Homo sapiens: one gene and its partners. The protein of the gene in region 5 interacts with the protein of the main gene of each other region in a biochemical or structural test. Each region holds a gene or a part of one and is shown on either strand. Other genes may lie near its edges.

What was found.
Region 1: the proteins of FGA (region 5) and CDH5 form a complex in vitro, tested with the Homo sapiens proteins (one study listed by BioGRID).
Region 2: the proteins of FGA (region 5) and LRP1B form a complex in vitro, tested with the Homo sapiens proteins (one study listed by BioGRID).
Region 3: the proteins of FGA (region 5) and ITGB3 interact in a test that uses a peptide from one of them, tested with the Homo sapiens proteins (one study listed by BioGRID).
Region 4: the proteins of FGA (region 5) and HRG form a complex in vitro, tested with the Homo sapiens proteins (one study listed by BioGRID).
Region 6: the proteins of FGA (region 5) and ITGA2B interact in a test that uses a peptide from one of them, tested with the Homo sapiens proteins (one study listed by BioGRID).
Region 7: of the proteins of FGA (region 5) and KLK6, one has a biochemical effect on the other in vitro, tested with the Homo sapiens proteins (one study listed by IntAct).

What each region holds. Positions count from the first base shown.
Region 1 is NC_000016.10:66,387,191-66,390,690, reverse strand, and holds part of CDH5 (cadherin-5 preproprotein), read right to left. Parts: intron 2,368-3,500; coding exon 2,251-2,367; intron 1,334-2,250; coding exon 1,169-1,333; intron 316-1,168; coding exon of another isoform or gene 289-315; coding exon 101-288; intron 1-100. UniProt on the Homo sapiens protein: Cadherins are calcium-dependent cell adhesion proteins. They preferentially interact with themselves in a homophilic manner in connecting cells; cadherins may thus contribute to the sorting of heterogeneous cell types.
Region 2 is NC_000002.12:142,128,217-142,132,196, forward strand, and holds the start of LRP1B (low-density lipoprotein receptor-related protein 1B precursor), read right to left. Parts: upstream 2,801-3,980; 5' UTR 2,625-2,800; coding exon of another isoform or gene 2,514-2,624; coding exon 2,432-2,513; intron 1-2,431. UniProt on the Homo sapiens protein: Potential cell surface proteins that bind and internalize ligands in the process of receptor-mediated endocytosis.
Region 3 is NC_000017.11:47,256,827-47,260,326, forward strand, and holds part of ITGB3 (integrin beta-3 precursor), read left to right. Parts: intron 1-3,500. UniProt on the Homo sapiens protein: Integrin alpha-V/beta-3 (ITGAV:ITGB3) is a receptor for cytotactin, fibronectin, laminin, matrix metalloproteinase-2, osteopontin, osteomodulin, prothrombin, thrombospondin, vitronectin and von Willebrand factor.
Region 4 is NC_000003.12:186,672,514-186,676,013, reverse strand, and holds part of HRG (histidine-rich glycoprotein precursor), read right to left. Parts: intron 3,228-3,500; coding exon 3,147-3,227; intron 926-3,146; coding exon 824-925; intron 1-823. UniProt on the Homo sapiens protein: Plasma glycoprotein that binds a number of ligands such as heme, heparin, heparan sulfate, thrombospondin, plasminogen, and divalent metal ions. Binds heparin and heparin/glycosaminoglycans in a zinc-dependent manner.
Region 5 is NC_000004.12:154,587,943-154,591,939, forward strand, and holds the start of FGA (fibrinogen alpha chain isoform alpha precursor), read right to left. Parts: upstream 2,801-3,997; 5' UTR 2,746-2,800; coding exon 2,692-2,745; intron 1,621-2,691; coding exon 1,495-1,620; intron 1,035-1,494; coding exon 851-1,034; intron 1-850. UniProt on the Homo sapiens protein: Cleaved by the protease thrombin to yield monomers which, together with fibrinogen beta (FGB) and fibrinogen gamma (FGG), polymerize to form an insoluble fibrin matrix. Fibrin has a major function in hemostasis as one of the primary components of blood clots.
Region 6 is NC_000017.11:44,379,650-44,383,149, forward strand, and holds part of ITGA2B (integrin alpha-IIb preproprotein), read right to left. Parts: intron 1,413-3,500; coding exon 1,230-1,412; intron 997-1,229; coding exon 951-996; intron 842-950; coding exon 737-841; intron 653-736; coding exon 597-652; intron 505-596; coding exon 353-504; intron 166-352; coding exon 40-165; intron 1-39. UniProt on the Homo sapiens protein: Integrin alpha-IIb/beta-3 is a receptor for fibronectin, fibrinogen, plasminogen, prothrombin, thrombospondin and vitronectin. It recognizes the sequence R-G-D in a wide array of ligands.
Region 7 is NC_000019.10:50,959,592-50,963,091, forward strand, and holds part of KLK6 (kallikrein-6 isoform A preproprotein), read right to left. Parts: intron 2,290-3,500; coding exon 2,153-2,289; intron 1-2,152. UniProt on the Homo sapiens protein: Serine protease which exhibits a preference for Arg over Lys in the substrate P1 position and for Ser or Pro in the P2 position.

The DNA of each region.
Region 1 (3,500 bases), on a different chromosome or scaffold from region 5:
CTTTGATGGTCTCTGGCCCAGGAGCAATCCCCAAGCAGGACCTGTGGGTGCCAAGAGCCCCAAGCCTCACGTTTGACATTGTTGCCATTGGCCTACAAACCTTCATGGGCTTGATGATGCCCTCGTTGTGGGCGGGGTTTGTCTCAATGGTGAAAGCGTCCTGGTAGTCGCCCCGCAAGATGCTGTACTTGGTCATCCGGTTCTGGGGCTCATCTGGGTCCTCAACAAACAGAGAGCCCACAGAGGTGCCCACACGGGTGTCTTCAGGCACGACAAATGTGTACTTGGCTGATGCAAACAGAGCACCCCAAAGGGCTTTGGGTTAATGAGATAGACAAGGCGATTGCCTCTTTCAGCTATTCTAACATATTTTGATAAAAGAAATGGGCATAATAAAATAATCATAAATAATAATACCCCTGGGATTCTCAAGGTAAAGAGGGTCTTCCCTATCTGTATGTCCATCCATCCATCCCTCCATCCAATAAATAGCTATTGAGCACCTATTGTATGCCAGGCACTTTGCTAGGGGACCTATCAATGGACAAGAGAGACAAGTCCTGCCTTCAGGGAGCTTATGCCATGTACGAGGAAGCCACTTCAGGACAATTGGCCTGTCTCTAGGGTGGCTGAACAACTGAATGACAGTATCAGCACTGGGAGTTGCAAGTGGAGAGCCATCTGCCCCAGGCATGGGAAAAGCTCTCATTAGACATTCTCTGTGGGGTGGATCAGTGTGTAGGTGGGGTCAGGGCCCAGCCCTGGCTCTGGATATAGAACTTTGCTGTCCCCATGTTCACTGGCTTGTGGGAATTTCTAGCTGGGACCTGAGTCTCAGGGCTTTGATTTTCCCAAGCCCATGGGATCTGGGTGAAACTGCTTGTGTCTCATGGTGGGACACAGTACAGTGGTGGCACCCAGCAGGGAGTGGGATTTCCCTCTGGCCTATGAGGGGATTGTGGCAGGGGGCGGCAGGATGGCCTTGGGAATGTGGTATTGGGATGGAAGCAGGGCCCCTCCCTTCACCCAAAGGACTCCTTTGGGCATCAGGCCTACCCTGGGATAGAGGGAGAGGTAAAGTGATTTGTAACTCTTTTCCCAGAGCCCCAAGTCACTGAGTCTGGGGTATCCCAGCCCCCCTTCCCAGGGCCCTAGAGGAGGGGCTCACTCTGGGTGAAGAAGGGGAAGTTGTCATTGATGTCTTGCAGAGTGACCAGCACGGTGGCCGTGCCCGAGTCCCCCCGGAGGCCCTGGGCATCTCGCGCTTCCACCACGATCTCATACCTGGCCTGCTTCTCTCGGTCCAAGCTTTTCGTTATTGTGATAATACGTCCTGCAAAAAGATTCCCAGCAGGAACCATGTTACCAGCTTCTAGAAAATACCGATGCCTAGGGCCTGCCCAGAGAGAACCTGACTTAAGAGCTTCCCTGGTGATTCCACTGTGCAAATGGGGCTGAGAACTGTGAGTCTACAACCCACTACCTCCATAGCCTATACTGTGAGGCCAAAGCTGGCCCAATAGTTGGGTTCGGTATTGGTCCTCGCCACCTGAAATATTGTGTTGACAAAGACCATGAGGCCATATCTAGGCTCAGATGGAAAGAGTGCTGTGATAGATTAGTGATGTCTGCCTTGGTGCACTGTAGCATAGTAGTGGCATCTGTGCTATGTATTTGCCATCTCTCTGAAAGACAGTTCCACTGGACTTCTTTCTTGCTCCCAAGAGTCAGTCCTTATATTTTTTGTTAAGTCATCACATAAGCAATTACTATGGGCCTTGCTGCCTTTATACATGATCTAACTCAAACTTTACAGCTACCATACGATATAAATATAAGCATTCCTACCTCCTAGATGAGGGAACTAAGGCTTGCAGAAGTTAGTTGATTTGTCCAAGGTCTCTAGAGGGGGTGAGTGGCAGAGCTGGCTTTGGAAACCAGATCTGTCTGAACCTGCACCCAGAGCGGCTAGCCACCATCCTCTGCTGCCCCTTGGCCACTTCTTGGGTAACAAGATCCTGATTTTGTTCCCTGGACTTGAGTCCACCTCTTGGGCACCTGCCTGCTTCCTTCTCCCTTGACCAGCCGCCTTGTCTTTACATATGATACTGACTACTTCCATGGTACAGTGTGGTTCAGTAGCTAGTGACACCTGTCAGACTGGACTTCCCTTAGCACATGCACCTGGAGTATCCACCTCCCCTTGTCCCTCCAAATCAGTGACTGTCCAGGAGTGTTAGTCACACAGACCAGAATTATCGATGGCAAAATACTCTTTCCCCTTCAGGATTTGGTACATGACAGAGGCGTGGTCTCCCACAGTGGGGTCGTCTGCATCCACTGCTGTCACAGAGATGACTGAGGTCCCTGCAGAGAGAGAATCCTGGGGTTGCTGACTTGTGACTGCTAGGCCCCTTACCCCATTCCTGGAACAGAGCAGATGGGGCTCAGGCTGTGCTCTGTCCCCACCTCCCCCAGGTCCTGGGAATAAAAGGCTGTTTTGTTTTCTGAGGAGCCTGCATGGGGGCAAAGTGCTGGTGGCAGTGGGGGCCCAGCCAGGTCAACCTTGAAGGGGTCAAAGAGATCAGGTGGTTTGTGTGCTTCCTGGGGAAATGAGGGAGGGGGCGGAGGGTTGGGGTCAGGGAGAGAAATGGAGGACAGCAATGAGCTGCTTCTCCCTCTCCTGGAAAGGTGCCCCCAAAGGAGTGGTGTCATTTCTTGCATCCCCTTGAACTCCAGGATCTCACACTCAACCCGAAGGTCTGGTCCCAGGGCCCTGGCTGGAGACTCTGGACTGAAGAGGGAAGCTCTTTTCTGGCACCCTCTGGAGTCTGAGGTGTACTGAAGAGGTGGAGTAGTAACCTCCTGAGCCCAGAGCCCAGGCTGGTGACATACCTTGGGGCTAGTGCTCTGTCCCCCACACCACTCCTGCATGGCCCCTAGAGATGAATCCTTTTGCCTTAGTGGCAGGCCATGACAGTCGTCACATGTAAAGGCTACACTCTTGGTGTGCTAGTCCTGACAGTCAGAGGAAGTGAGTGAAGTTTGTTCCAAAGAGTAGTGAGATATGCCTCTGATGGCCAGGGGTGAGTTCATGATCAAAATCAGGGCACAGTCTATGACTAGGGTCAGGACTCAGTCCATGATCAGAATCAGGGCTCAGTCTATGACTAGGGGCAGGGCTCAGTCCATGATCAGGATCAGGGCTAAGTTTATGACTAGGGTCAGGGCTCAGTCCACGATCAGGATCAGGGCTTGGTCTGTGACCAGTGTCAGGGTTCAACCCATGATCAGGATCAGGGCTCAGTCCAGGATCAGGATCAGGGCCAAGTTTATGACTGTAGTCAGGGCTCAGTCCATGATTAGGATCAGGGCTTGGTCTATGACTAGGGTCAGAGCTCAGCCTGTGGCCAGATCAGAGCTTGTTAGGAACTAGAGTTTCTTTCAAATCATGTAAAGTGGCAACACAGGCATTACAATCACTACCCTGAACTCACTGG
Region 2 (3,980 bases), on a different chromosome or scaffold from region 5:
AACACAGCTAGAAGGTAATACAAACACTTCTGATATAGTTCATACAGTTTGAGAAGCTACCTATTACACAATAAGTACACGTAGAACCTAAATGTGAATTCTCATTTTTTGTCAAGCAGTTAGCTCTTGCACTACAAAACGCATCTGTATAATTCACATGCCTGTTCTGTTATTCAAGGACGATTGACATAAGCCTGTGCAGAAAGTTACATCTCATTAACCTCTTTCTTGAGTTTATATTCCCATATCTTCTGTTTCAGCATATTAGTGAGGGAAGCTTGTCATAATGCAGTAACACTTTCTTTCTTAACTTTCAACAAGATTTCTCTCTTTAAAATTCCTTTTTCCAAATGGGGCCCATCCTTTTCACTTTTGGTAACTGTGAGAATTTTAGCTCTTTGCTAACAGTTTTGAAAGTGTGTTAAATATATAATAGTGGCAAAGTGCTGGTCTACAATTATTTTTACTTGTGCTATCTGATATAGTACTTCATGTGGACGTGGTGATACAACACGACACTATTTCATTTTTTAGAAAAAAACTAGCAATCGTTTACCATGTGCTCTGCTTCTATCTTAGATGTTCCTCTCCCTCATGAAACTAAATTGGCACCAAATATAATCCTCTTAGTTATTTAATATTCTATCTCAGAAGAAAGTTGTGGGGTCTGTATTTTTTATGTTCTATACAAAATTCTCTTCAGATATTTACTCCAATCATGGTAGCAGTAGTTCTATCCTCATAAATGTATACAAAAGCATTGAGAACTCAGCTTTAGATGAAGTCAAATTTCTGGAGATTGGAGACTCAATCAGGAAGAGCCCAATAGCAGTAGTCTGCCAGTACCATTATATTTTGCTAGCATACTGGGCTGAAAATCTCCATTCTGTTCATCTGCTCTGGTCCAACTTCAAACATTTTTCCTAAGAAAGGTTGAGAGCTGATTGTTCCAGATCAAAGACATCATCATTTCAAGGCGAGCTATGTGCTTCCATTTCATCAGTATAGTTTCCAACCATTCCACACCAACTTCAAGGCAAGTTGAGCAAGTTCAGAAGCTATGGTTAGGTGGCAATGATATGCTTAAAAGATTATCACCAATAAGTGTCAGATTTCCTAAAGGAACTCAGATTAGTCCCACCACTGGTAGAGGAAATAACACGTGTAGGTATGTTACAAAGGCTAGAATCTGGCTGCCAACAGCAGGTTGAATAGAAACACTGCAGTTCATTCCCCTGTTCTTTCCTATAATGAAGCAATATTTTTTGTCAATTCATAATCTGCTTCATGTAAATACAATAACTAAATCTCCCAATGCAACATTCTGCCTATTTGCTTGGCATTGGGATCTGGGTTTCTTTCTCTCTTTCTCTCTCTCTCTCTCTCTCTCTCTCTCTCTCTCTCTCTCTCTCTCTTATTTAAACTAAAAAGCTGAACTATACCAGTCAATATAAGCTCATTTTCTGATTTTAAAAAAATCTATGATACTTCTGATTTTACTTTAACCAGTTAACCATTCCAAGGCCAGGGCCAGTGCCCCAAATATTCATCTAGTATTTTCCTCCCTTTTTCACCAGTGCATCTGTTGTCAAAGATTATTAAACTCGCACAGGGATTCTTGATTTTCCAGATGAAAAGTTTATAGAATCCCGGCTTTTTCTAATTCCTACCTCCTTTCTCCTCTGCTCCCCATATCCATTCCCTTCTAAACTTCTACCATTCACCAGCTGCTTGGAGAAAAAGGAAAAGCAAAGCGCCAGACTGGAGAGAGGCACTCCAGGGGTGGGTTAGCCCCTCAGAGCACCTGGGCTGTGTCACAGACCCTCATAATCGAAAAGTCAATTTCAAGCAGGTGCGTGCGCCCGGAATCGTCCTAAAAGCCTCTCTGCTGATGACAGGACTCTGACCCCAGTCTGCCCCCAGGAAGGGGCTATAGAAACGAAAGGGGCCTGAATCGGCGCTTTCGCCGCTCCACGGACCTCGAATGCAGCAGGTAAGGAAGTTAACCTGGGAGCTAAGTTGAGGGCGGACACGCTTAACGCGGAGAACCTGGAGCTCGCAAAAGCTCGCAGTTGAGGGCCATCGCGGAGGGAAGTCTTTCGGAAATGCGAATTCTCATTCCAACATCTGCAGCGCTTAGAATTCGCGGACAGAAGCGCACAGCCAAGTGCACACACTCCCGGAGGGGACAAAATGGGGACCGGGAAACGGCCAAAGGGAAAAGCTGTGGGGGTGCCGAGGACTCAGGCACTTGGTTCAGAAATCCCGCACCGCACCTCTCACCCCCGCACAGGGCCAGCGCACGGTGGTCACCCGGTCCCGGGGAGCGGAGCTGCAAGGACTTAAGTTTCACACTCACTTATCTGCAAGCATCGCCCAGCAGGAAAGCCAAGGAAGTCAGGGGAGGGGAGCGGGGAGGTGTTCTCCTTACCTCGGTCGGCTCCCACGGTCAGCACCCTGGCAATCGGCAATAATCCCGAGAGAGTGAGTAAGGCGAGGAGAAACTCGGACATTGTGGTCGCCCGGTAAGGAAGCCTGCGCTGGAGACTGCTCGGCGGCACCTTCGGCCCGGCGGCGGCGGCGGCGGCAGGGGCCGCTTGGAGCCTGGAATCGAGCGGCGTCATTTACAAATGTCACTGGAAATTCTTCAGCTCAATGAGTCCAGCCAGTCAGCCTTCTCCTGCCTGGAGCAGGATGTGGAAGGTGGAGGGATGCGCGCGTGCGGGAGAGAGGAGGCAGAGCGTGTGTGAGCGCGAGCGAGACGCCCGTGTGTCTTGACTTTTCAATGCAGGGTACGTCTGATCTTACATCACGCAAGAGGGGCAGTGAGAGATGCCAGCGGATGGGAATTCACTGATTAATCACCGAATCCACCACACACCCCTTCGTCGTTCACATAAATCACATCTATTACTTAATAAGAGGCATTTAACACAACAGGAAAATACCACCGCGAACGGAGAGCGCCACAAATCACAATTATTTTAATCCCCTTGAAGGGAAAGTAACTCGAAGCTGGTTCTGTGGGGATTTGGGTCTTTGGAGAAGGGAGAGACTTCTGCATTGGCCTGAGCCAGCCAGGCGCCTACAATGCTCCGCAGTTCACAGCCAGCTGAGAACCCTCAGCCGAGCACAGGGCTGCTTCTGCAGGCAAAACAAAGCTTCTCCCTTCGTTCCTCGGAAGCTTCCTTCCCGGGAAGGAAGGACAAGCCAAGGAACAGAGCTTCTCTTAGGGAAATGGTTTCCTCGGCTCTACACAGAATCCCAGTACTTCCTGAATTGCACTTTTAACTTTTATGCTGAGCAGCACCTGGGGACAAAGAGGCAAAATTTAGTGACTCAGCAGAAACAGAAAGCAAAACAACCCCCAAAGTCATTAACCGTTGCGTAAGAAGGGAAGGTTAATGGAAAAGGCTATTGAGGTCCCCAGGCAGGGAACAATAAAGCAACGAATTGGCAGCGTTTTTCTCTGGGGTTCTGTCTTTAAAAGGGTACTTCGAGCCATTTTAAACAGGCTTTGAGGGTTTTGTTGTTTTTGTTTTGTGTTTTGTTTTGTTTTCCTTTTCCATATACTACAGGGGCGGTGTAAGAACTTTCCCGAGCCATCGGAGGCATCAACGGGAATCACTGGAATAATAATATTAGTAAAGTTGTTTTTATGACCACTTAAGTTTACAACATGATCATCCCAGTCCCTAAAATTTTAGTTTGCCATTACAAAGTGGCTACGGAATTAAAACTCAGAAATCTTAATAGTTGTAGACTTACTTTCTTCCTTGTAACATCAGGAATTCTCTTCTAAGAACAAGAGTTGAAAAGGTTTTATATTTAATATTTTGAAACTGGACATGAGTGGAGAGGAAAACTATGAGAAGGGAACAGAACTAAGGAAGAGAACGATTGAAAAGTGAAGGAAGATGCTTTAAAAGCTTTATTTACTTTGCTGTTTGAGACTTATAAGTGAATGCCAGCATTACTAT
Region 3 (3,500 bases), on a different chromosome or scaffold from region 5:
ATTTCTCTTCTGGAGTTTATATCCTAGAAGCTCTCCAATCGAAGCCCTCTGCAGGTATCCTCAGGTCCTGGAGAAACACAGCAGGAAGGCTTGTTGGCTTCGGAAAGGGAGGGCTATGGTTTAAAGCCAGTAAGATGTGGGTTTGATTCTTGACTTTGTCTCCTGTAGGCTGTGTGGCCTTAAATAAGTTACCTAATCTCTTGAGTCCTCAGTTTCCTCATTTGTAAGGCAGAGGAAACAATGCCTATGATTATGCTGATTAAATGAAACAGAGGCACAAAATAAGTGTTTAATGAATGACAACTACTATTGTCATTATTCTTCCTATCCATGCTATCTGCCATGTATTGGAGGCAAAAGCTGTTACTACTTCATGCATATGCGCTATGCAGGCTTCCAGAATGAAACTGATGGGGTCCCTTTCCCCCACATATGTGAGAGGGGGTCCCTCTTATTTCAACTCGTTCCTCATTGCTGGTTTGGCATATCTCAGCTACTCTAACCCGGCAAGAATCCACAGAAGAAGCCAAGAAGGAAAAAGGCTTATACATTTGCTTTACCCATAAGAAAACCTCAAGCCCTGTATCTGAAAAAAGAGGAAGATAAAAGGATCTATAAGACTTCAAGTTCCATGAGAAGAGGGACATGTCTATTTTGTTCAATACTCTATGCCCACTGCCTGGCACATAGGCAGCAAAACAAATATCTGTGGAATGCTATGTAAAGGCATCTATAGATGATGTGCCTCCCTTTAAGAAACCCAATATTTGAATATTTGCACTCATTCATACAAGATCCTCAAGTGCTCCGTTTGGATAATCTGGAGGGTATGAAAACATAGCCAAGATCATGAATTCTTTGGGCATTTGGGCCGCTGCACTGTTGCACCATTTAGACCTGTGATCTGAGAGTGTGAAAAACTCAAGGGATCCTCTGTAAAGTGTCTGCCTTTTTTTCCCTCCTGGGAGGAGCCGTTAGAAGGGCAACATTCTCCTTTCTCCCCCTTGGACGTGTGGGTGTTGGGGCAAGGGTGAGGAGTGACAGAGGTCTCCTGGGAAGACCATAAGATGGGGCAAGCACACCACAGTGAGGAGGGGGAGTCTGGCTATGACTTTAGAATTTCCTGATCGAAATTTCTCCTCTAAAGCTCCCCACCCTACTTGGGATCTGAGGTTATCATCCCCTCCCAGTCCCAAGAACCCTTCTTCCCTTGTTGGCAGAAATCTCCAGGAAGCATGCCCACAGGAACCACAACTCATGAATCAGAAGACAGATAATTAACCGAGGGAGTGACTGAGCAGCTTCAGGGATGAACCGCTTCGTTTTACCCAGCCCTCTCTGCTGCCCACAGAGTGGGCTGCTCCACCCCATCGCCTCTGCTCCCTCTTCCTGAACCTTGGCCCTTCCTGAGTGGGACCTTCATTGTGCCTGATGGAGCTCAGGCCACTAGTGGAAATGAAGGTGGGAGCAGGGAAATGACTCTGTTTAGGGGAACTGCCTATTCCCCGTGTGGGAACTGCTGGCATTTATTGAAACGTGAGACTCTCCAGCAAAAAAGTGATAGCATCTGCCTTTCTGTCCACACACACAGTCTCACCAAAAACACTCTTTTTTTTTTTTTGTTAGATAATTCAGGTATAATTTATGTACAGTAAAATTCACCCTTTTTAGTGCATACAGTTCTATGAATTTTGACAAATGCATATAGTCAAGTAACCATTGCCATCATCAAGATACAGAATTTTTCCATCATCCCCTAAAATTCCCCCAAGCTCTTTTTTTCCCTTCTTTTTCTTTCTAGAGGCAGGGTCTCACCATATTGCCCAGGCTGGTCTCGAACTTCTGAGCTCAGGCAATCTGCCCACCTCGGCCTCCCAAAGTGTTGGGATTACAGGCGTGAGCTACTGTGCCAGGTGCCCCCCCAGCTCTTTTGTAATCGATACCCTACCCTCAACCCTCGTCGGTTGCAACTGCTGATCTATTTCCTGTCCCTGCAGTTCTATGTTTTACAAAATGTCATATAAATGAAAGCATGCAGTGTATAGACTTTCAGTCTGGCTTCTTTCACTTAGCACAATACATTTGGGGTTAATCTATGATGCTGCATCTATCAGTAACTCTAAGACATTGTCTGAGGCCACTCCGTCATCCTCCGTGTTGGAACAGTTACCCTGAAAGCAGTGGGACTGGATCCGTTAAACTTTGGAGGTGCTCCCCAGCTTTCAGCTTCTAAATTTTATAATTGGATAGATGTATTTAGCTATATATAAGTCATTAGATTTTCCATGTGCTAAGTAGTTAAAGACTTCAGGATACTAGAGAGGATTCTGTAGCAACCAACACTTATTATTCTTGCTCATAGGAGTAACAGATATTTTGTGGCCAAATATTGTATGTCATGATGCTTGGAGTCAGAAGTTGTTAAGTAAACCTGGGGGCTATTCTACCTTTTTACATTTTTGGTAGCATCTCTGAAAAAACAACCCACTTGACTTTTTTTTTTTCCTTTTTTTTGGGAGGGTGGGTGGGTGGGTGGCTTTTTGGCCAAAACCAGAAAGCTTGCTAGACAAATTCTAACACTAGATCTAACACTAGATGTCTTATTTCTGTTTTTCTGTCATGTTCCCATGAAAAGACTATTTACTTACCCCCCTCTCTCGGTTTTATAGTTGAGTTAGTTCAATTTCTTAGTTCAGTTAGTGAAGATGTTTAAATATTCAAGGAGAGAAAGAAAAAGAACAAGGTGATACACATTTTAAAAAAGTCAAAATAACAAATATTGTTATTTCTTGGCTGGGCGCGGTGGCTCATGCCTGTAATCCCAGCACTTTGGGAGGCCGAGGCGGGCGGATCACCTGAGGTCAGGAGTTCAAGACCAGCCTGACCAACATGGAGAAACCCTGTCTCTACTAAAAATACAAAATCAGCTGGGCATGGTGGCATGCGTCTGTAATCCCAGCTACTCGGGAGGCTGAGGCAGGAGAATCGCTTGAACCCAGGAGGCAGAGGTTGCAGTGAGCCGAGATTGTGCCATTGCACTCCAGCCTGAGCAACAAGAGCAAAACTCTGTCTCAAAAAACAGAACAAAACAAAACAAATATTGTTATTTCTCAAATAGGTTCATCCACATAGGATCATTGTCAGTCGTTAAAATTGCTGGTTCCCTTCTAATTCTATTCCCCTATAATGTTCATATTAATCAGGTGGTGTGTTCTGTTTAGACATTTCCCCTCGCATTTATGTTTATTTGTGTGTGTGTGTGTATTCCTTTACTTAAACCCATGATATATAGTACTTCCTTTTATATAGAAAAAAGCTCAGTGTGGAAAGAACAACGTATCTGGAATTAAGAAACCTACATTCGATTCACAGTTCTGCAGGCTTTTTCATCAGCTTGCTGGGTGACTTTGAACAAGTGACTTTACCTTTAGGCATCAGTCTCTTGGTGTCCCAGGGGCTGCAAAGTGGGACAGAGAAGATGAAGGGAAATACTTCAATTT
Region 4 (3,500 bases), on a different chromosome or scaffold from region 5:
CCTGTAATCCTAGCTACTCAGGAGGCTGAGGCAGGAGAATCGCTTGAACCCAGGAGGCAGAGGTTGTGGTGAGCCGAGATGGCACCATTGTATTCCAGCCTGGGCAATAAGAGCAAAACTCCTTCTCAAAAAAAAAAAAAAAAAAAAAGACAGAGCCATGTTCATGGTGACAATCCTGCCCTTTGTTCCTTTTTCTTTTTTTTAACTTGGGATTGGATGTTTGGATTATTTTAAGTTTTGTTTCTGATATGAAAAATTTCGTGAAGCAAATCTTTGTACTCATGTAAAAAATAGACCAAAGATTTCTGAGACAGATGCAAAATATGGTTTTGCATCTTATTTTATATACATTTACATAATAAATTTGAGGCTGATATATTCCTCTTAGATTCTATGCCCAATAATATAAGCTTAGGAATGACTAAGTCTCAGCACTAGAGTCCCGACTACAAAGAGCATTTTCAAATTCCTTCAAGTTTGGTTGAATTGGACATGATTTTAATTTTCTGCCAATTGTTACCCCTCTTCAATTCTTGGAAAAGTTTTCATACTTTTTGTGTAATCTGGCAATTGCACTCCTTTCCCCAGTTGTGGGATACTCTCTGTATCTTTTTTCTTGCATGTCTGTCTGTCTCTCTCTTTCTCTCTCTCCCTGTCTCCCTCTCTCTGTCTCTGTCTCTGTCTCTCTCTCTCTCTCTCTCTCTCACACACACACACACACACACACACCCACTCATAGAGCTTTAGGAAGCAACAACACTATTTGTGTACGTATGTCACTTAATCTGGCACTGCCATGACAAAGTCTGCTTAGACAACCCACCTGAGGGTCGAAGACTTCACAGTTTATGACAAGGTTTTTCGGGCTTTCCAAGTCCAAGGCTTCTACATCATAGAACAAATCTGCTCTGCAGAATCCAAAGACCTACAAAGGAATGAGGAGCTGTTAGTGTGTGTGTCCAGGTGGTGTGAAGATGACCAGCCAGAGTTAGCTTCCAGACATTCAGAAAAGGAAGAAGTGCTTTAGAAAAATCAGGGTAATATGATCAGATATTCCCACCAGTCGTTCAGCAATCTTTCCTTGTTAACACTTTGGGGAAAGTGCAGGTGGTGAAGGGTATCACTAAAGTTGCTGTGGTTTTTTTCATGAGCAGGCACCAGCACTGGGCTTCCCCATGGGTGATGGAAATGATGAGGAAAACCACATCATTGCTGCCTTGCCTTTAGGCCAACCCTTCTGCACTGGAGACCTCAGTTGCCTGTGCCTAGGACAATGAGGAATGGTGTCAAAGAGGGATTTTTACAACTTCAGCTGGTCCCTTGGAGGAAAGTGTTGGACAGGAGGGCATCTGTATAGCATAAAGATGGGTTTTCATGGACATTGTCAAGGCAAGTGTCTGCTGACTCCACCCAAGTGCCAGGGCTACAACTGGCTGCCACTCCTGTGCTCCAGATGCTCCTAAACCCACCTGTGAAAGATCGACTAGGACAAGAGGACGGCTGTCTGCTAGAAGAAATTGCTAAGCATTGAGGTTCTGAGTACAGTTTGGGAATCAGAGAGACCTATGTTAATCCTGGCTTCTCCATTTCCTAGTTGTCTGAGTTTGGGAAAGTTACAAAAGATTTCTGAAAGTCAGCCATTGTAAAATGGGGATAATACTATGTACTCACAGGTTGTGGGAGGGATTAATTAAACAAGAGGATGCTGTAAAACACTTACCCCTGAGCCTCCTCTTCAGCTCTGGTGCTTCAACTCTGGGTTTACATTATCCACACCAAGATCATGAAGGGTTTGTTGGCCATAGGAGTAGGGGAGGGAGGTGTCTTTTCTGGTGGGCGCTAAGAAGGTTTCTAGACCTGGTTCAGTGTGGACATTAGAAGAGCTAACAAAGGTACTAATGGATGGTTTCTCCCTTTTGACCAGGGAGAATGTGTTGTTAAACCTCAGAAAAATCCTGGACTTGGCATCATAATTAAAATTCCATTTCCTAACACTCTCTAGCTAAGTGCCTTTAGGTAAGTGGTTTTAATTTCAGGTCCCCTTGTCACAGGAAATGTAGGCAGATACTTGCTTTTCCTTGTCAGCAGGATTTTCATGAGGCTCTCCTGGCAATAACAGATGTGGAGGTGTTTCTTTAACTGTAGGTCACCATGCAAATGCCAGGTGGTATTAATAATGTCTTCTGGCAGGTACATGGGAATCTATTTGTAAATGATTAGAGGAAAAATCCCACTGGACTTTGTATGAGAATAACTAAGTTTTAATCTCAGCTTGGTTGTGAACATCGGCAAGACCTTTCCTTTGCTGATTTTCAGTTACCTCCTCATTTGTCAAGTGGGATTCCTGTGAGTGTGATGATGTGGAATTAATAAAACCACTTGGCGTAGGGTCTTAGTACGAACTGCTATAGTTCTAACTAAGCCTTTAATCCTAATCAGTTAGAAACTTAGTTTTAAGTTTAGGTATATATCATGTATATTATAAAATCATGTTCTTATGGTTCGCTTATGTTCTCTGTGCCTCAGTTCCCCTATCTGCTAATTTGGGATTAAAAATGGTATCTATCTCATATGGTAGTGTGAGGGTTAATAAGTTATCATAGGCTGGGCATGGTGGCTTGCGCCTGTAACCCCAGCACTTTGATTTGTAATCCCAGCCGAAGTGGGTGGACACCTGAGATAAGGAGTTTGAGACCAACCTGATCAACATGGTGAAACCCCATCTCTACTAAAAATACAAAAATTAGCTGGGCGTGGTGGTGCATGCCTGTAATCCCAGTTACTCCGGAGGCTGAGGCAGGAGAATCGCCTGAACCCGGGAGGCGGAGGTTGCAGTGAGCCGACACTGTGCCATTGCACTCCAACCTGGGCAACAAGAGCGAAACTCCATCTCAAAAACAAAACAAAACAATAAGTTATCTGATGTGTAAATCACTTAGAAGAGTGCCTGGCAGGTACTAAGTGCTTCCCAGATGATACTTTGTATTTCACAGACATTTCTTCCTCCTTCTCCTCCTCCTCATTTTCTCCTTCTCATTCCTCTTCTCCTTCTTCTCCTTCCTCTCCTTCTCCTTCTCCTTCTCCTTCTTCTCTTTCTTTTTTCTCTGTGACTCTAGTCAACGATCACAGACATTTCTTATACTCACATTGGGGTGTCTGGGGAAATGGTGTCTGGGGCAGTTCCGCACAGAGAAGTCCACGAAGTAACCAGTTCCTTCCCCTCCTCTCTAGAACAGATGGGATCAAAATAGTTTCAAGAACAGACAAAGAAAAAGGAAAAAAAAGCAGTAGATAACTACCATTCAATATTTTTTAAGGCAGTATGAGAATTCAAAATCACCAGTATGTGTCATTTTTTAAAATGGTTTCTGCCTTTTAAAAATGTATCACCTAAGTGATAAGGTGAATACCAGTTCACTGAAAAGGTTCAAATAATAAATATATGATAAAGTAGAGTGTGAAAAATCACCTCTCCTGCACTCCAACTTCTTCCCAGAGTT
Region 5 (3,997 bases):
AAGATGTCCTAATAGCAATTAGTAATCCCAAAGAAATATAGAAGAAGAACTTTCTTTGGAATTTTAAAGGTGTAATTTGGAGTTAAAATAGTTGGTTTGATTGCATTTCAATTATTTTATAACATCCTTAATCAAGGGACTTGAACATATTGGATTTTCTTACTGATGAGCTTTTCTTTTTAATCTATAGATTTGAAATGGTTCCTAAGCTGTTTTGGGTCAACAGGATCACTCACTTGCCAGCTAGTGTTGCATCACTGATTTTAAATGTCAAGTGTTTGTGAAGGTGTAAAAAGGCAAAGCAAAACTTGAGAAACTGAGGACTCCCTAGACTCGCTGTCCATGCCCAGAGTGAATGCAATGTTTCCTAACCCTAATGAGTAGACTGTGAGAATGACGTAGCTTGACCCTATATTTTAAATTTAAAAATCTACCTAATCAGCTCAGTGGAGTCTGGGAGTTGAATTCCCAGCTCTGTGTCTTTGAACAAGTTCCTTGACCTCTCAGTTTTCACCTTTACAAAGCAGAAACAAAAATATCAACTCAAAGAGTCTGACCCATCCTACTTTCAGTATATACTGTTGAAAAGAACACATTTAAATTCTTGTTTTTAATCCAAAATTCTGACTTATTTTGTGACCTTAAACAATCTCAGTTAACATCTTTTACTTTGAAAAAATAACGAAAACAAAAGCTCCCTCTTAAAATTTTCAGGGATATTATGAAGGTATGTGTTTCTACACTAAGTACTTTGGGATGAAATTGTCATAGATATAAGCGGATATCATATTTATTTAGGATTTTTGTTGTTTCTGTTATAAAGTCAAAGCAGTAAATATGTAATACTTACTATTGGCTGAGGAAAAATCGCCTCTCAAAATTTCCATTATATTAGTGGTCAACGAATGAGAATCCTTATTGTTCTTCTGATATTCAAATAGTGAATTTTTGAGCTTATTTATTCTGTTTGTAAAATCTTGATTGACTTCATCAATCAACCCTTTCATCCTGCAGCCAGAAGGGCATTTGTAGTTCTGAAAGTGAAGGGAGAAAATTACAGTAAGGATCTATCTCTCAGATTCAGAATAATTTTGCATGTTTCCATGCAGCCCCCATTTCTTCCTACCCTATCTCTTCCAGATAAGTTGGCTTAAAAGTAGGTAAGAGGACTAGTTAGAGGTCGCAGAGAAACTCTGGAATGAGGGTCCACTTAGCCATAAATTAGGTGCCAGGAAATTGAGGCCACAATACTCAGGAGCCTGGTTTTGCCTGAGCATGCAACTGAAATCCTGTCTGTTCACCCACTAATGATCCAGAGTTGGGGAGGTAAATAAACAGTGCTCTTGGGAGTAGGTTCCTTTTCTTTATTTGCTATGTAGGTAACTATTCAATTATTTTCTATTTAAAAAAGTTTCTGGGACCAATCAGGTCAGCCTGTGAGCCCCTCTAGCATCAGAGGGAAGGAATCTCCTGCTTCCCCCGCTGACTGCTTACCCAGTCTTCATCAGAGCAGAAGGGCCAGTCTGAATCTTTGCAGGCAGATTGATGTCTTTCCACAACCCTTGGGCCACGCACGCCTCCTCCTTCAGCTAGAAAGTCACCTTCACCACTATCTGCAGTCTTTAAAGATTCATTCACATACACAAAAGAGAGCAACAGCAATGTTAGCCAGAAGAGGAGACAGTGGCATGCCTACAAGTCCCCAGGAAGAGATGGCACTCTCACAGAGATTAAGGAGAGCAGACACAGGGCTTCGGCAAGCTTCAGGTTTCTTATCTTCAAATGGAAATCCTAGGACCCATTTTATGGAGTTGTTATGAGAATTAAAGGAGACAAGGTGTACAAATTTCTTAACTGTGTGTGACACTTAAATAAGCATTTGATAAATATTAGGAGTTTTAAAGAATCCATCCTAAAAGGAAAATTATTTGAATCTATAAAATCAGTTAAATTTTACCTTTTCATTTTTACTAATGACTGCAGACAGAAAGTTGAAAACTACTGTAGAGCTCTTTCTCCTGTAATTGCTGCTTCAGTAGAAAAACCTAGACTATCTTAACTGAATGTTCCTCTCTCCTTCAAGTTTCTATGTAACCTTTAGAGATGGATTCATAATTTAAAAGAATACCATTACTGCGGAAAAGCGTATTGCCTTACTAACTAATCTCTTCTGATACTGCAAAGATATTTCCAAAGATAATTCGTTTGCTTTTTCTTCTGTCTTGACAAACACAACAATAACCTTTCAGCAAAACTGTACTAACACTAAAAGTTCTGCTTATTATGGACAAGTAGCAAGAAATTAATAACTAAAGAAAACAAATCTTACCATAAAATGTTTTATTCCATTAACTAGCATTATAATGCACCAAGGCTTTATAGGTACAAGGATGGCAAATAATTCTTGCCCTTTTTAAAACAAAACAAAACAAAATGTGGTAAGACTGAATGACAGATGCTAAAGTTTCCCTTGTGAGTTTGTACACTCTCATCCATCTAAGATCTTCCTCTTGGTGTCATATTACCCTGTATTCTTGAGGTGTCAAGCCCACCCAGGAAATTTCCTCCCAGGCCTGGGGTCATAAAGCTAAGAGTGTGTCAGGACATAGAGCAGGTAGACTCTGACCTCCAGGCTCTTTGTGGAATAAACACCAGAGAGAAAGCAAGAAGAAAAAATGAAAAGGGCCATACCCATGCTGTGCCCACCACACTTAGGACCAGGCAGACGATCCTCATGGAAAACATCTTTTCTAAGGGTGGGGCTGGCTCCTGAGGAGCACTCCAGCTGAAAGAAAGGATTGCTGCCACTCCTAGTTCCCATCCTATTTAAATCTGCAAGAGGTTTGGTTAATCATTGGCTTTGTCCTGTGTAGACAGTCAACCCTCCCTCTACGTCCTTTGTTCCTCCTATGCTGTTGGTATCCCAGAAATTCTTGCTCAATTCCCCTCAGCTTGTTTGCTTCCGATAAGCTGTTGCAAAGGTAGCATTTGATTCTCCAGTCAACAATTAGGAGATCTCACATTCCAGGAACAGGGTGGCTTTGAGAATGAAAAGAGGAGCATAGGAGGGTATATCCATATTTCTAAACGTGAAAGAATATAGAAGGTGCTTAGGTAAGCTAGCTGTAGCCCCCAGTAGTAGTGATTTAGCAAACAATATTTCACTTTATGCAGAAATTAGGGTTGGGTGATCTGGCTTATAAAAAAAATAACTTTGGGGATAAGCTGGCCCTGAAGGCTTTCTATAAGTTTATTTAGAACATATTACTTTTCTCTATTTAAAATATTAAGATGACAGCAGCCCCAGGAACAAAACATCTTGGGTTCATAATCCAAGCTGCACCACTTCCCTGCTCTATGTTCTTGGACAAGTTACTTTACCTCTTTATACTTCAGTTTCCTCATTTATAAAATAAGGATGCTGATAAGCTACCCCATGCTTTTATGAAGAATAAATGAGTTAATTCTTGTAAATCTCTCAGAACAGTGACTGTCACATAGGAAATACTCAGTGAATTATGGGAGATCATAAAGTGCCATGAAAAATACCATTTATTTCCTGTTTCTGTGCTAGCAATCTCATTTCTGAGTGTATTTCCAAAGGAAATGAAATCAGGATCTTGAAGAGACACCTGCATTCCCATGTTCATTGTAGCTATATTGACAATAGCCGAGATATGAAAACAACCTGTTTCCACTGATGGATGAGTAGATAAAGAAAATGTGTATATATATATATACACAATGGAGTATTACTCAGCCTTGAAAAAGAAGGAAATTCTGTCATTTGCAGTAACATTGATGAACCTAGAGGGCATTATCCTAAGTGAAATGAGCAGATATAGACAGACAAATACTGCTTAGCTGGTCGTGGTGACAGGCACCTGTAATCCCAGCTACTCAGGAGGCTGAGGCAGGGAGAATCACTTGAACGCGGGAGGTGGAGGAGGTTGCAGTGAGCCGAGATTGCATCATTGCACTCCAGCCTGGGCCACAG
Region 6 (3,500 bases), on a different chromosome or scaffold from region 5:
GGTCCTGCACCTCCCTGGCCTGTCCCTGCCTGTCCCTACCTGCTCCTGCACATGGGTGTCTCCATGCAGCACGACAGCAGGGGCCATTCCAGCCTCCGTGGGCGGTAGGGACACATTGAGGCTGAGCACAATGGGGCTCAGCTTGTCCCGGAAGTCTGCCTCATCCTAGGACAGGGGCAAGAGTCAGGCCATCTTGCTACCATACACATCCCACCTTCTCCTGGCCAGTAGGCACCGTGTCCTGACCACCCCCGGACTCACAGCACCCAGCTCAGTGCCCCAGGGCTAGATGAACAAGTCCAGTGGGTAAGTTCTACTCTCCCAGCCCTGCCAATCCCCTGCCTGGGCGTACTCGAAGGAAGGCCATGGTGGTGTGGCAGATGGGGCTGTGCTTTCCGCCCAGATCCAGGTTCAGGGTGGTGCCTGCCTGTTGAGAGCCCAGCAGCAGCACCCGCCGGCCCTGGCGGGGCTTCTGCCGGTCCAGCTGCAGCTCGGCATTTAGGGCTGGCAGGGCAAGCAGAAGAGTCAGGACCTCCCTGGCCAGCCTCCGGGGGAGTCCAAGCCCACCTCCCTCCTGCCCCCTTCATGCCACTCACATAGCTTCTGAGGAATGTTGTGCCCAGTGGCTCCAACACACATCTGGATGTTGAAGCTGCAAAGACGTAAGTGGGGCTCAGGGGTTGGAGCCTTTCTGAGGTCCCAGATCCTTTAAGGCCCATGCCCTCTGCCTCCTCACCAGCTCACGGGTGTCTTGGTCTGAGGTAGGACACAGCTCTTCACAGCAGGATTCAGTGAATCTTGCACCAGTAGCTGGACAGAGGCCTTCACCACTGGCTGAGCTCTGATGGGATAGGGTGATGGGGTAGGCTTGCCATTGTGGCTCCTCCTGGCCTGGCCTCCTCTTGATGGCACAGGACCTTCCCCATCCCGCCCCTGGAGCCAGTGCTCACCTGTACACAGCCACCTGGTTGGCCCCGTAAGCTCCCACGATCAGGTCTATAGACATCGAGGAATGGGTCAGAATTGGCGATTAGGGCATGGGATCCTCATCTCATCTTCCCAGGGGTTCCCCACACCACCTCCCCCACTGGAGGTTTCACCCAGCCCCTCTGGCAGTCCATAGTGGGACACCAGGCCAGGCATGAGCCCCTGGCCGTGTCTCTTGGCACTTCCAGCGAATGTCCAAGGGCCTTTCTTGGGCATTTCTAGCTGGAGGCAGTCCAGGGCACCTGGGTATCCGTTGTCATCGATGTCTACGGCACCTCGAAGGGAGAAGCCAAAGGCAGAGCCTGTGGGGAAGGGGCTGTCCAGGACCTGGGAGGGACGTGACCTCAGCCCCTCACTCTGACCCAGGAACACCAGCACTTGGCCCCGGCCACTGGGACCCCCGTAGGGGGCAGCCACTGCAATGTCTGGAAGGAGTAACAGAAAGGAAGTGGCTGATTGTTATTCAGCCTCCCTAGATGACTGTAAAACTTTCCTGAGCTTCTCTGGGAACATCCCAGGAGACTAGGAAAGGGGTGCAAAGTGTGGGTGAAGGAGGCACTGCCCTACCCTCCAGGAGTTAACAATCAGGTGGGAGAGGGACCTGCCAAGTAGGATTGTTATAAAAACAGTGACAACTCTCACTGTCTATTGAGGAAAATATATCCTGAAAATTAAGCATCATTATTCCCTTTTCTAAATTTTTTTTTTTTTGAGATGGAGTCTCGCTCTGTTGTCCTGGCTGGAGTGCAGTGGTGCGATCTCGGCTCACTGCAACCTCTGCCTCCCCCGTTAAAGTGATTCTTGTGCCTCAGCCTCTTCAGTAGCTGGGATTACAGGCGCCTACCACCATGCCCGGCTAATTTTTGTATTTTCAGTAGAGACGGGGTTTCACCACATTGGCCAGGCTGATCTCGAACTCCTGACCTCAAGTGATCTGCCCACCTTGGGCTCCCAAAGTGCTGGGATTACAGGTGTGAGCCACCGTGCCCAAGCCCCTTTTAAAATTTTTTTATTTTTAAGACAGTCTTGCACTGTCATTCAGGCTGAAGTGCAGTGGTGCAACCATGGCTTACTGCAGCCTCAACCTTCTGGACTAAAGCAATCCTCCCACCTCAGCTTCCCAAGCAGTTGAGACTATAGCCACCATGCCCAGCTAATTTTTAAAAATTTTTATGGAGACGAGATCTCCCTATGTTGGCCAGGCTGGTGTCAAACTCCTAGGCTCCAGTGATCCTCCTGCCTCGGCCTCCCAAAGTGCTGGGATTCCAGGTGTGAGCCACCGTGCCTGGCCATCTAGCATCTATTTCTAGCCTTCTCCATTCCATCAAACTCCCAGACCCCCCACACTTCCTTCAGCAGGTGACGTAATCTCTTACTTCAGGAAGAGAGGCAGCCCACTGTTATGCTATAATCCCACACCAACTTTCTTTTCCCTTTCCCCATTTGACCCTGGAAGAGGTTTCCTTCCTTCACCCTGACACTGGGCCAGTCACCCTCCCACCCCCTGAGGCATCACAGGGACTCTCTGCTGGCTCATCCCCCCATTTCCCCACAACATCATTTTCAACCTACTACATGTTCTTCCACATTGAAATAATCTTCCCTTGACCCTCATCTCTTTTCTGTGATCACCTTTTCTCTTTTTCCTCTTATAGTCAAACATGTTTTTTTTTTTCCTTTCTATTCCTCAAATTCCTTTTTACCACAAACCTGTTGAAAGAGCTGTCTACATTAGCTGCATCCAATTTTTCATCTCCATTCATACCTTACCCCATTGCATTCTGGCTTCTGACCCTATCTTGGCCTGAATCAATTTATGTCACTGTCACCAATAACCTCCCCTTCTTTTTTCTTTCTTCCTTTCTTTCTCTATTTTTTTTTTTATTTTGTTGAGATGGAGTCTTGCTCTGTCACCCAGGCTGGAGTGCAGTAGTGGCGCAAGCTCAGCTCAGTGCAACCTCCACTTCCCGGGTTCAAGAGATTCTCCTGCTTCAATTTCCCAAGTAGCTGGGATTACAGGTATGAGCCACCATGCCTGGCACCCTCTTCTTGCTAAAGCCCATGAATATTTCTCCAGCCCCACCTAATTGTATCTTGCAGCAGCAGCAGGAGCTGCAGCGCCCACTTCCTCCTGTGCATGCTCTTTAACGCATGCTCTTCCTTGAGTCCCGGGCCATCAGACCCCCTGGGTTCCCTCCTCCCTCTCTGGACACTCCTCTGTCTCCTTCTCAGACTTACCTCCTGTAGGAGTCACCTAAATGCTTTTGCTCCCTAGGGCTCTATCCTGGGCCTCTTATTTCACAGGTCCCGGGACCTCATCCACTTTCCCCAAACCCCTGTCTCCCATTCAGATCTCTCTTGTGGAAGCGGGGAGAGCCACTCCCAACTGTTCTTTGGATATTTCCGCCTAAAGCACCCAAGCCCTTCAAGCTCAACAGGTCCAGAGCTGAACTGCTGATCTCCCGCCTCTCCCCAGCACCTGCTGCACGGCCTGAGTTCCAGGCAGTGGAGGC
Region 7 (3,500 bases), on a different chromosome or scaffold from region 5:
AGAGCAAGAAAGAGAAACAATTTAAGAATGGAGACTGAGAGGTGTGGAGAGAGGCAGAGGTGTAGAGACCGATGGAGAGAGAGGAGGAGGAAGAGGAGAAGGAGGAGGAAGAGGAGAAGGAGAGGAGGAAGAGGAGGAGGAAGAGGAGGAGGAGGAAGAGGAGGAGGAAGAGGAGAAGGAGGAGGAGGAGGAAGAGGAGGAGGAAGAGGAGAAGGAGGAGGAGGAAGAGGAGGAGGAAGAGGAGAAGAAGGAGGAAGAAGAGGAGGAGGAAGAGGAGGAGGAGGAAGAGGAGGAGGAGGAAGAGGAGGAGGAGAAGGAAGAGGAGGAGAAGAGGAGGAAAAGGAGGAGGAGGAAAAGGGGGAGGAGGAAGAGGAGGAGGAGGAAGAGGAGAACGAGGAGGAGGAAGAGGAGAAGGAAGAGGAGAAGGAGGAGGAGGAGGGGGAAGACGAGGAGGAGGAGGGAGAGGAGGGGGGAGGAGGAGGGGGAGGAGGAGGGGGAGGAGGATGGGGAGGGGGAGGAGGATGGAGAGGGGGAGGAGGATGGGGAGGGGGAGGAGGGGGAGGAGGAGACGATAAGACCCAGGTGGGAGAGGTAGGGAGGGCCCAGGGAGAGATATGCCTGGCACTATTCTGTCCAGGGACACCTCTCCACCTCGTGTCTTGAGGACAGTCTCGCCCACCTGCCCTTTCTTTGCGTCCAACTTGCTATGTATCGCTTTCCCTGTCTCTGTCCCTGTTTCTGCCTGTGTCTCCGTTTCTGCCTGTGTCTCCCCCTTGGTTGGTCTCTGCACATCCCTCAGTGCATTAGTCATTCTGGCATAAAGAGGAGAGCCTGGATGGATGACAATGGAGGAAACCCAAGTTAAAGTATTCGGGAGGGAGTCCCCTTTCCCCAGCTAGTGTCTCCCTCCTCCAGAGCCTGGTCGTTTCTGAGCAGGACTCGTGGGGGCTCTGTTTGAGGAAGGACAGTCCCCTCACACCATCTGCTTCCTTACTACTTCTCTTTGGTTCTTTTTGTTTTTAGACAGAGTCTGGCTCTGTCCCCAGGCTGGAGTGCAGTGGCGTGATCTCAGCTCACTGCAGCCTCTGCCTCCTGGGTTTAAGCAATTCTCCAGCCTCAGCCTCCCGAGTAGCTGGGACTACAGGTGTGTCCCACCATGCTTGCGTAATTTTTGTTTTTTGGTTTTTTTTTGAGACGGAATCTTGCTCTGTTGCCAGGCTGGAGTGCAGTAGCATGATCTCGACTCACTGCAACAACCTCCGCCTCCAGGTTCAAGTGATTCTCCTGCCACAGCCTCCTGAGTAGCTGGGACTACAGGCGCCTGCCACCACGCCCAGCTAATTTTTGTATTTTTAGTAGAGATGAGGTTTCCCCATATCGGCCAGGCTGGTCTCAATCTCTTGACCTGGTTATTCACCCACCTCGGCCTCCCAAGGTGCTGGGATTACAGGCATGAGCCACTGTGCCCATCCTAATTTTTGTATTTTTAGTAGAGATAGGGTTTCACCATGTTGATCAGGCTGGTCTCGAACTCCTGACCCCAGGTGATCCTCCTGCTTCGGCCTCCCAAGGTGCTGGGATTACAGGCATGAGCCACTGTGCCCATCCTAATTTTTGTATTTTTAGTAGAGATAGGGTTTCACCATGTTGATCAGGCTGGTCTCGAACTCCTGACCCCAGGTGATCCTCCTGCTTCGGCCTCCCAAGGTGCTGGGATTACAGGCATGAGCCACTGTGCCCATCCTAATTTTTGTATTTTTAGTAGAGATAGGGTTTCACCATGTTGATCAGGCTGGTCTCGAACTCCTGACCCTAGGTGATCCTCCTGCTTCGGCCTCCCAAAGTGCCGGGATTACAGGCATGAGCCGCTGCTCCTGGCCTCTCTGGTTCTTGATCCCGCGGCCTCCATCCTTGTCTCTGCACTTCCTGTCTCTGCTGGCTGTGTCTTTATATCTCTGCATATCCCTGACTGTGTCTCTGTGTGTTGAACTAAGTCTCTTCTTTTCAAGGCTTGGGTTCTCCCTCAGCCTGTCTCTATCTGTCTCTGTAAAGCTCTCTTTTGGCCTGTGTCTCTCTCTTCCTGTGTCTGGCCATGTTTTTGTGACTTCGTCCTGTCCCTGGCTGTGTAAGTGGCAGATCCGGGTCACCTCACCTGGCAGGAATCCTTCCCGTACTTCTCATCCCCAGCACACAACATGTTCTGGGTGATCTGGCCAGGGTAGGCATGCTCACACTCCTCACGGGACACCAGGTGGATGTATGCACACTGGATGGTGTCAGGGAAATCACCTGTTAGGGGAGAGATGGGCCAGACTCAGCCCAGGCCTTGCACTCCCCTCATCCTCCCCAGTCACCCCCCAACCCCTATAAGTCCTCCATCCTCTATTGGTCCCTCTTTTCTATTGGCACCCCTCTTCCTGTTTGTCTCTCATTCTTACATCTCATTACCATCGTCCCTGCCTCCTAATTGGTCCCTCTTTCTATCATTCTTCCCCCCCATTGGCTGTCTTCCTCATTAATAGTCTCTTCTCCAGGAGTCCTCATTTCCTATTGGTTTTCCTTTTCTCTTAGGTCCCTCCTCCACTTTTCTCTCTTCCACTGGTCCCACCTTCTTCAGTAGTTTCAGTTGACCTGGAGGACTCTTCCTCTGTTACGCCCTCCTCTACTGTACCCCTCCTGATCAGTAGTCCATTCTTCATTGGACACTTCCTGCCCATTGATTCATCTTGATTGGTCACTCTGTGACCATTGGTCTTTTCCTAACTGGCCATGCCCTCTCCCATTGGTTCTTCCTTTCTATTGGTTCTTCATCCAATGGTCCACCTCCATCATTGGTCCTTTTCTAACTGTCCCCACCCTCCCTCATGGATCCTCCCTTTCTATTGGCCCTTCCTCCAATGGTCTACCTTCCTCATTGGTCCTTTCCTAACTGGCCCTGCCCTCCCTCATTGGCTCTCTCTTCCTATTGGTCTGCTTCCCTCCTTGGTCCTTTTCTAACTGGCCTCACCATCCCCCACTGGCTCTCCCTTCCTATTAGCCCTTCATCCAATGGTCCACCTCCCTCATTGGTCCTTTTCTAACTTGCCGCATCCTCCCCCATTGTCTCTGCCTTCCCACTGGCCCTTCATCCAATGGTTCACCTTTCTTATTGGCCCTTCACACACAGGCCCACCTTCATGGATCCTGCTGATCTATTGGACCTGTTTTTTCCTCTAGTGACTCCTCTGGACCATTGATCCTTTCCCCTTAGTCCCTCTTCCATCAGCTATACCCCCATTCACTGTCTCAATTCACATCCTTCAGTTGGCTTTTGTGCTTTATTGGTTTCTCTTCTTCCATCAGTTCCTTCTCCATTATTCCTTCCTGCTGTTCAATGAATCCTGATCAGTCCCCTTTGACCTTTGACATCCTTCCTGATTAGCATCTCCCCACTGACCTTCCCTCTTTATTGAACCTTCATCTTATGTTCCATCTCTCCCATGCTATTCACCCATTGGTCT